2 separate regions of the Homo sapiens genome follow, and region 2 is linked to region 1. Evidence: fine-mapped expression QTL. A gene starts in region 1. The other region holds a variant in brackets. All regions are shown on one strand. Distances are between the middles of the regions. Region 1 holds the start of MACIR (macrophage immunometabolism regulator). Region 2 has its middle 97 kb from the start of NIHCOLE.

What was found. PIP is the estimated chance that this variant, and not a neighbour inherited with it, causes the effect.
Region 2: its variant is the best candidate, but not a certain one, in a credible set for the expression of MACIR in fibroblasts (GTEx, PIP 0.90).

Annotation. Positions count from the first base shown.
Region 1 is chr5:103,255,726-103,261,110 of GRCh38, reverse strand. It overlaps MACIR (macrophage immunometabolism regulator), which reads right to left and starts at 2,348. Exons shown (of 3, transcript NM_033211.4): 1 at 2,215-2,348. RefSeq lists silencers at 1,588-1,967, 2,178-2,687.
Region 2 is chr5:103,981,210-103,986,594 of GRCh38, reverse strand. No RefSeq gene overlaps it. Among named protein-coding and RNA genes, the nearest start is that of NIHCOLE, 97 kb to the left of the region's middle. The variant C/G (reference allele first, on the strand shown) is at 3,089.

The sequences.
Region 1 (5,385 bases):
TCTTTCCATTTCTGCTAGTAAAAATTAAACCTAGGTTACTAATATCTTCTTATCACGTGGTGTCATCCTTCTACTTTTAGAAAAATACTCAGTTTCACTGCAAATATGACCGACAGTAAGTGGAACTAAAGGTCAACATGCAGCCTTTACAAGAAATTTGTCTCTTAGGAAGTATCATCAAAATGGAACAGGTGTACACTGTGGAATTGGCTAATCTTTGGGAAGGCTTAAAACCAGGTACTCATTTTGATAGGCTGGTGACAAAATCAAAGTTCTCTCTGGAGGAAAGGAGCTGATCCCCCACCTCACCCCCAGCTACAAATCAGCAAAGAAATTTTAAACCCTGTACATAAAGCTTTATTACTCTAACCATATTAAGTACTTTTGAGTTAATTTTATAATAGCTCTCTAAAATACACAGAAATATACAAAGAAAATAAGCAAATTCATTGACTGTTATATAATATCAATAAATATATCTTATACACTGAAATAATTACTAACACTTTCATTTGCAATTAAATAAACTGTTAGCAAAAGCATATTCTATACATCAATTATTATCAAATTAACAGGTCTCTGTATTCATTAACTCTTATATTCCATCCTGTTCATTTTACTTTTCAGTTTATAATGCATTCACAGTTACATAATTAAAACACTGAGGATTCTGTGACACATTCATTAAACTTAATAGTGTAATCATAAATCGCGGCCAAAAGCTTCTGCCGTAATAACCAATACTATATTTTGAAATGACTGGGAAAATAAACTTTGCAAAAGGGTCATTTCTACCTCTATAGTGTCAATCCAGCATTACAGGATTTGAGAAAATAAAACAACTAACAACCCTAAATTGTAGGTTGGCTCTTCGGAAAAAAAAAAAAAAGGAAAATGAGTCTAGTAACATCAGAAATATGCAAGAATTGTTCTTTCAGCTAGGAGCGGCAAGCACACTGTAAAATGCCTCCATTCTTCCTGCTCAAATAAAAAGTTCCCAGCTCCAGCTTTACCTGTGCACCACACACACACAAACACACACACACACACACACACACACGGAAATCTTGGTTCCACCCAAATCAGTAACCCACTGGGTTGAAAACTGAGGTGGAAGGAGAGGCAGGGAGTCCCTAAGCGTGTGGAACACTAGCAAGGGGAAAAGGACGGGGCCATCATTCCCTTCGCGTTCCCATCTCCTTTCTGGCGGAGACCTGCAGATTCCACCACTAGAGAGAGTTTGGCAGCTTCACAATGGGGCCGCGTTGCTGGAGGTCTGACTGCCACCCGCCTCGAAACCCCTCTCCTCCGCTTCCCACCTGCCCCAAAGTCCACCCGCGACAGGTGGGGCGAGGGTGGCAATGCCCGACATCTGCCGCTTAAGCTTCTGGCTCGGACCGGGCCCCAATCCACACGCGCACACACGGCCACAGCCGGCCAGTCCACCCCCACTGCACCGGCAGACACTCGGAGGGCGCGGGCGGCCTCGCACGCGGGTTGCAACCAGGACGAGGAGGGTCGGCGAGATCAGACCGCCGGGGCTCGCCCTGAGGTGCTATCTGACCCGGGCAGTCGCACCCTGAGCGCGGCCGGGCACGCAGCCAAAGGTGCCGCCGGCCGGGGAAAGCTACTTCTCAAAGGGGCCTCCAGGCCCGCTGCCCCGCGGTGCGGGAACAGCGGCCAAGGGAGGGAGCGAGCGAGCGTGCGCGCCAACGCGCCCCGACTTCCGCACCGCGGCACCGCGGGAGAGGCGCTCCGGGTCGCCGAGTCCCCGCACCTCCCCAGCGAGCGCACGACGCGCGCACACGGGGGCGCACGCCCCCGCACACTCACACGCGCTGCACACTCACGGCGTCTGCGGCCCCACCCCTGTGCCAGGGAACCGCAAGCTCCCCGCACCCCGCGCGGGCCCCACCCAGTTTACCAGACCCCAGTCCCCTTCGGGTGCCTGGGAACCGGTCCACCAAGGCCAAGGGACGCTGGGGCCGCCCCGCCGCCCATCGCAGAAGCTGGTCCGGCCGGGTTTCCCCAGCACCGCGGGCATCGTGCGCCCGGCCCAGACACGAGGCGGAGAGGAAGGGGCGGCGCCGCGATTAGGGCTGGCACTGGGGATCGGAGCCTGGGGCAAACCCACTCCCCCAAGCCCCCCATAACCACCACCTTTTCTGCAGCACAAAAGGTTACAGACGGAGCCGTCGTCCCCGTGCAACCTACCGATGGCCCAGGGCTCCGCTGCCTCCGCCGTGCCCGGGGCTGCGGAGCGGGAGACAGGGGCGGGAGAGGCGCAGGACTGCGGCGCCGAGATCCAGGCAGAGGCCGCCAGCCGAGCCAGCCGGGTACCCTCTCCTCTCCCACCGCGCTCGGCGCCAGCTACCGCCCTGCTTAGTCCCCGCCCCCTCCTCCGCCTCCTCCTCCGCCTCCTCCTCCGCCCGCCTTCCCGCCTCCTCCCTCTGGCTGCAGAGGCGCAGCCCGTCAGCGCTGAGCCCGCCTCCTGCGCCCAGCTCTCAGACACCCGGAGGAAGGGCGGGCCGGCTGGCTGCAGAAAGGCGCTAAGAGGCCAGAAGAAGTTGGCGGGGGTGGGCGGGGTTGTTGACTGGTGGTGGGGAGGAGGAGTCGCAACACCCGCTCTCTAGTCTAAACCCAGCACTCCAACTAAAGAGCTCCAACTTGCGGACCTGGGAACACTCCGGCTTCCTCAGTTAAGTGGTGTGCTGATATTTGTCACTTGTGAGTCTCTGCTTAAAGGGCTCAGCACTAAGCAAAAGTACAGAAAACTAGAAGGCCATGAAATTAAAAATTATAGGATCAGTCTACGAAAACTCGTAATACCCAGTGAAGGTGGCGGGGTGGGGCGGGGGGGGGAGTTCAAATTCAGATTCTGATTGGATTAACTATTTTTTAATTTGCACAAATGTTGATCTTGTCTATTATTGTAATAAATTATTTTCTTTGATGAAGATTTGCTTCTCTCAATTCATGTACATTTCTGCCGAACTGGTTAAGCTCAGCAATAAGAATATTTACTGGCATGCATATCCAAATTTACATCTCTCAATAACCATTCTGTGAGGAAGTAACCAATTATGATCCACATTTTAAAAATGCAGAAAGTTTAGGTCATATGCCTACTGAGTGGCTAAGGCTGAATGTGTACGCAGTCGGTGAACCCCAAAATTGTTTATAAGTGTTATAAATTTCGGTACCAGTGTCCAATCAAGAGAGTTTTATTTTTTAAAAGACAAAATGCTTTATCTTAACATAAAAGACATAAATCTGGAGTAGATTAATATAAGTTTAAACGAGTCTTGATTCACACTTGTTCCAGAATCTACATATGTTCCTGATAATATAAAGGCAAAAAATATATAAACACCTCTAGTCCAACAGAACCACTCCCGGAGGCCGCTCAGCTATAAGCCATTTTATGCTACTGCTTATGTGCCCTAAAATAAGTAAAGGAAGGTAGAGGGAAGAATAAGTTTTAAGGAATGTTCCCTAAACAATTTTACAAAACATCAGTTACTTTTTTTCCCGACATAGATTTGCATGTAATTTCAAAAATATAGAAGCTAGCACAACATAATATGAATAAATAAATGAAGAAACTTTTTTTGCATCAGTACATTAGGAGAATACACCGAGAATTATTTCCGATTATAATCTGTTTGACACAATAGTGTATTGTCCTGATGATCATTCTCATAAAACCACCTCCAAAACATTGTATATTTTATATTAAGAGACTTAATTTCATTTCTTCCTGTCTGAAATCTTATAACTTTTTCAGAAGAATGTCTTGTACTTGCCCTTTGCGCTGAGAGTTTGGCAGTGTGCTTTGGCCAAAAGCAATAAAGTTCCCCTCTTAGTTTATTAGGCTCAAGGCTAGCTCTCTTGAGGGCATTGTCTCCAAATTGCCTCCCTCCCTGGGTGGTGTTCTATGCTCCCATCCTAACCCTGAATCTTCACCCAATCAGAACCTAAGTCAGTTCTTGAGTGTCACAAAGAACACCTAATAAACCAATTCACCATGCAGTAATGGTTGATAATAGCTTTATGTGTGGCTCCATCAAGGATATGTTTATGCCACCTAGAGATACTGACTGGGTATTGTCTTCACTCGGATTGGATGTGGGTTGCAAGTGCCGTGGCTGAGGGGCATATAAGAGGTGCAAGTTAATGCAGAATCCCTTCCCAGAGCTTTTTAGTGTTTTAGGAAGATCTCTTCAACCTATAAAGAAAAATGGCATTCATATAAAGGGTTAGGCCCAAATGTAGAATAGACCCAGAGCCCTGAAAGGCCTTCTGAATTTGGGGACTCAGAAGCTCCATCTCACACACTCCTTGTGTAAGTTATGTCTTTGCCTCAAGGCATCCTTTCCAGAAAATCCCTTTAAAATGACTTTAAAATGTCAGCTGCCTGGGAAATATTATACTACGTTGATGTAAATGATGTCGGCTAGCAAACAACCAGCTTGAGAGAACAGAATAGGTGAATTTGATAACAACATAATGATGTAAAACAGAATCTACAAAGACAGGTGTGCAAGAAATACCACATTACCTTCTTTTCTATAAACTCATTTGTTTCAAGCAGGGTCTAACCAGGAAAACAGAAACCATTTTGAGTATCTACAGAAGTAATTGAATGCAAGAAATTGGTAACGTAGGTGATAGGAAAAGTCAGAAGCTAATCAGGAGATGGCACAGTAATCCAGAAACTAGCAACTGCGACCTCTAGCTGGAGAAATAAGAGAAGAGGCAGGGTTATTGGAGTCCAGGGCCCAGGCAGCATGGCCAGCCTGGTGAGAGCTGCGGCCATAGAGGAGAAACAACCACTGCCAAAGAAGCAATCTAGGGAGGGAGAAGGGGGAAATGTACTATACGTTCTCCTCTCCTGCCCTCCAATCTCCTTCCAGTGCCTTGCATTGGCCAAGTCTGATACACCTGCCATGGGAGCCAGGGAAACAGCCTACGGGGATCAGCCCTTTGAGACACTGAGGAGACTAGGAGAAGAACATAGAACGTGAATCTGCACTTGATTTTATTTCTCTTTAAAGGCCTTACTCTTTTGTAAAGTTCTTCCCTCATTCCCTCGAGCAGGGTCAAAGTTCCAAGAGCATATGCCAGACCAGACCATGAATGGGTGATGATGGCAGGGAGTGGAGGGGAGGTCCTTCGGATTGCAGTCATCTGTCCACAGAGGTTTCCTTTGTTCCTTCCTGGAGCTGCCACCTATGGTTCCATGATACAGTGCACAACCTGCCTATAGACGAGACGGCCCTGCCCTATACACTGGTTCCCTCCCTTTGGCTCCGGCACCACACCTGAGGCCAGAGGAATTTCCTAGATCTGGGACCATCCTGCTAAGCCTCACACATCCTCGGT
Region 2 (5,385 bases), 730 kb before region 1:
ATTGATTTAGTGAGTGTAATCATTTTAGGACACCTGTAGTTAAACTCATGTTTTCTTTTCTAGTTTGTACAATTTTATTTGGGTAGTAAGCCTCTAAGGACTTTCTGTAATTTGAAAGACAGACTTGAGATTCAAATGCAGAATTTTTCCCCCATTTTAAATCCCACCCAAGACCATTCTAACGGCTCCAGCTGTGATAGAATAGTCTTGATTCTAATCACCAACAGCTCACAGTCATAGTCATGGACAGCTGAATCCATTTATACTGCACATGTAGTGTTGCTTCTCTATTTCTCTATTCTGATTTTATGGCTCTAGGGAAACTATAACCTTTTATGGCCTTTCCCTCTACTCTTTGACCAGTCAATACTTTAATAACTTCAAATGTTTTTACTCTTCTACCCTAGATATTGAAAACAGATATGATTTCTATTGTTTTAATTATATCATCTATTCTTTTTTTTTTTTTTTTTTTTTTTTTGAGACGGAGTCTCGCTCTTTCGCCCAGGCTGGACTGCAGTGGCGCTATCTTGGCTCACTGCAAGCTCCACCTCCCGGGTTCATGCCATTCTCCTGCCTCAACCTCCCGAGTAGCTGGGACTACAGGCGCCCGCTACCACGCCCGGCTAATTTTTTTTTTTGTATTTTTAGTAGAGACGGGGTTTCACCGTATTAGCCAGGATGGTCTCGACCTCCTGACCTCGTGATCCACCCGCCTCGGCCTCCCAAAGTGCTGGGATTACAGGCGTGAGCCACCGCGCCCGGCCTATTCTTTTACATAATCCAGGTTCTAATACCTATCAACATCCCAGGAGTTAACGCTACTTTGCTATTAGCCTTCTGAAAGGAAACCCCAACTTACTCTATTTCATCCCATACCTTGACCTTGGATGTTGCATTGATTGGATTTTTTTATTCTTCATTAAACTGACGTGTTGATCCCTGATAGTCTCAGAAGTTTAGCTCTAACAGAGGTGTCAAATCCATATCCCTCTGTGAAGATTTTTTTTAAATTGATAGCTGTAAATTGATTTTGGATAAAGTCCAATCTCCCCAAACTATTTTTTTATACAGAAATAGCTAAAGCTTAAACCTCAGTGTGATGGCTTGTAATTTCCTATTATATAATTTCCAGCCACATGATGTATGTTAGCCTTCTCTCCTCTATTCTACCCCCTCCACCCCTGCAACCAGACTCATTTACTTTAGAGTTCATAGGCTGCCACCAAATAAATGGTGTGCAGTCGAGTGATGAACAGTGCTGAGAATCAAAATGAACAAGATGTCCCAAGTTATGTGGATTGTTTCAACATATGTCTCTAGGCAAGACAATTGCCATTTTGCAAAGAAGATAGAGATGCCTTTTAGAATCACATCAAACCTAATTCCCATTCCAATAGGTAAGAGACATTTTTAACACTCAACTCAAAGTAAACTTGACATGTTGTTCAAGTGATTTTTTTCTGTGTGATTTTGCATACCAAAAATTAATAAGTAATTTTTGAAAAGCTTTTAAAAAATTAACGCTCGAAAAAAACAAGATGTCAAACTGTATCTAACTTCATCATATTTATAATCCTCTGCAAACCTCACTCACATTGAAAAGTGTGGATTTGCCTAAGATTAGATTAATCCCTGTTTACACATATCACATAATTCTATCTCTTTCACCCCAAGGGACACCACAGAGAATTTCTGAGACATGAATGAGCATGCTGATTTTATTCCAAATAAAGTGTAAAGACCTAACAAATGTTCATTATGATAACAGTAGAATACAGAAAAGAACTGAAATACCACTCACCAGTCATCTATTACTCTCAGCCAGACATGTAATTTCATTGACAATCCTGGTTTCAGACGTACAGTCTTAGGTAATTTCATGGGCATATTCTCTACCTCATGACTTCTCAATTTTAAGAAAGTGTGCTTAAGTTTATCAGGATTTACAATATCCTTTTAAGGAAATAAGTTCATTAATTTATGGTAAATGATAAAATACTACCCCTTAATATAAAGACTACATATAAACACTTACATTTTTCTCCAAATTTAAAATAATAATTGGTAAATTATTCAGGGAAAAATCAGATTGTTGAGCCCTCTATGAGATGACTAGAAAGGAAAAAAAAAGTTAACATTCTAGAAATGTATTGAATTCTTAACACAATATTGTAATATTATTATGTTATCTTTATCATACAGATTATTTAAATGTACGTTCATAAGAAGGACAAATTTTCATATATGAAAGAGTTGGAAAGTGATAAATTCATCATAATTCAAAACCAGGTTCCTGTGACTTCAATGGCTGGGTTTTCTTTTGTTATATTTTCTTTTTAATGTTAACAGCTCCTGGAAAAATGAGAATAACTATAAAAACCTTACATAGTCTATAAGGTTATGTATTTATTTAATATTAATTAAAAATATCTCTTTCATTGTTATTAAATTGTTAGTGTGAAATAAATAGCAAGTTAAGAAGTCATTATGTCAGTACATTTATCTAAATGTAGGTAAAGCTAGCTTTACATTTTATTGTTTGAGGACAAAATCACTGTATTGTATCACAGCATGAAAGAAAGAAAAATGGTCCTGAGTTGTGATTTGAAAATATAACAAATTACAGAAGTTGGATTGTCATTGTGGTTGCTTTATGAATGAATGGAGTCATTTTGTGATGTTTATTGAAGAGCTTATCTGCCCCTTCCATCTCTTTATTGGATATTTCAAACATATCTGGGTGTTTTGGGAGTTATGAGTCTTTTTTTTCTTTTTATTATTACTATAATTTTAATTTCTGTTGGTACATATTAGGTATTATTTATGGGGTACATTAGATATTTGGAAATGGGCACGCAATGTGAAATAAGCACATAGTGTAGAATGAGGTGTTCATTCCTTCAAGCATTTATCCTTTGAGTTACAAACAGTCCAATTACACTCTTTTTTAAAATGTGCAATTAAGTTATTATTCACTATAGTCACTCTATTGTGCTATCAAATAGTAGGTCTCATTCATTCTATTTTTTTGTACCCATTAGCTATTCCCACCTCCCCGCCCCATCCAGCTCTCCCCTTTCCCAGC[C/G]CCTGGTAACCATCGTTCTACTCTCTATGTCCGTGAGTTCATGATTTTTAGATCCCACAAATAAGTGAGAACATATGATGTTTGCCTTTCTGTGTCTGGCTTATTTCACTTAACATAATGATCTCCAGTGCATATGTACCACATTTTTTTATCCATCCATCTATTGATGGACACTTAGGTTGCTTCCAAAGCTTAGCTATTATAAATAGTGCTGCAGAAAACATTGAAGTGCAAGTATCTTTTCAATATACTAATTTCCTTTCCTTTGGATATATACCCAGCAGTGGGATTGCCTGATCATATGCTAGCTCAATTTTCAGTTTTTTGAGGAACCTCCAAACTGTTCTCCATAGTGATTGTACTAACATACATTAAGTTGGGAGAAGTTTGGCTCTGGACTCTGTCCATCCTATCCCATGTCATTAGGGCTCTAATCCTCATATTTCTAGATCTGCATTCCTAGATCTTTGCACAAGCTGTTAGCATCCAAGTAAATTGTCCTAGTTATGGCTGTCATTCAATCATAAAGAAACAGTTGGCTGGCTGCAGTGGCTCAAACCTATAATCCTAGCACTTTGGGAAGCTGAGGTGGGTGAATCACCTGAGGTCAGGAGTTCGAGGCCAACCTGACCAACATGGCAAAACCCCGTCTGTACTGAAAAAACAAAAATTAGCTGGGTGTGGTGGTGGGTGCCTGTAATCCCAGCTACTCAGGAGGCTGAGGCTGGAGAATTGCTTGAACCCAGGATTTGGAGGTTGCAGTGAGCCAAGATTGCACCATTACGCTCCAGCCTGAATGACAAGAGCGAAACTCCATCAAAAAAAAAAAAAAAAAAAAGAAGGAAACAGCATTTGAGTTCTTGGTAAGATAAAAATTTAGGGATAGGAACTGAGAAGGGATGAAAACATCCCTTTTCCTCCTTCCTGCCATATATAGAAATCAATACTAGGGTAAATGGGAGTAAAGCCTACTCAAACCTTCTCACATAGATGGCTTCTCTATGTTTACCATATTTGGAAATAGAAGGTTACACATTACAGGGCCAGTCAAATGAGTGCTGCTTTATTGATTAAGGGCAATTCATATGATTCAGAGCAATGTTGTAAAGAGTCTGAGGGGAATCAGCATTTTGTTCAAAACTCTATAAAGTAGCCCAATTTTAAATTCAGCATGGTGAAAATGTGCATGGCCAGCTCAAGTCAAGACCATTATAATAAAAGCGAGAGGTAAAATTACATATTCCCTAATGAAATTTAACATAATTAAACTAGGTTTTTAGGCTTCATCTTTATCTATACTTATATATTTATATCTGTGTGTATATATATAAAGGGAGACTTTAAGGATATATATAATGTCCAATAGCCTCTGCCCTGCCTAAATGTCATTGAATAGTTACAAAGACAGTAACATGTTGTTGTTTTAATATTGTATTCAACTTTATCTATTAGAACAGTTTTAGATTCACAGCAAAACTGAACAGAACAAAGTGACATTTCCCATATACCACCTCCTCGCCACCTCATTCATAGCCTCTCACATTACTAACATCTTCCACAGAGTGGTACTTTTGTTATGGTTACTGAACCTATATTTCTACATCCTTTTACTCTCTTCAGGCTGCTATAACAAAATACCATAAACTGTGTAGCTTATTAAAAAAGAAATTTATTTCTTATAGTTTTGGAAACTGGGAAGTCAAAATCAAGGTGTCAGCAGATTTAGTGTCTGCTGAGGGCCCGCTTCTTGGTTCATTGACAATCATCTCTTTACTGTACACACATGGCAGTATAGAAGGACTAGCCAGCCCTCTGTGGTCTCTGTCATAAGGGTGTTAATCCCAATCACGAGGGCTCCACTTCGAAAAGGTCCCATCTTCTAACACTATCACCTTGAAGGTTAGGATTTCAACATATAAATTTAGTGGTGGTGGGGATAAACATTTAGACCATAGCACACAACGATATAACCCAATGTCTATAGTTTACAATAGAGTTCACTCTTGGTGTTGTACATTCTATTGGTTTGGATAAATACATAATGACATGTATCCACCGTTATAGTATCACACAAGGAGTAGTTTTTCTGACCCTGAAACCCTCTGTGTTCCATGTATTCATTTCTTCCTCTCCCCAGCCCCCAGCAATCACTGATCTCTTTACCATCTCCATAATTTTGCCTTTCCGGGATGCCATATAGTTGGAATCATATAATATGTAGCTTCTTTTTGTTTGTTTGGGTTTTTTTGAGACCGAGTCTTGCTCTGTCACCAGGCTGGAGTGCAGTCGTGTGATCT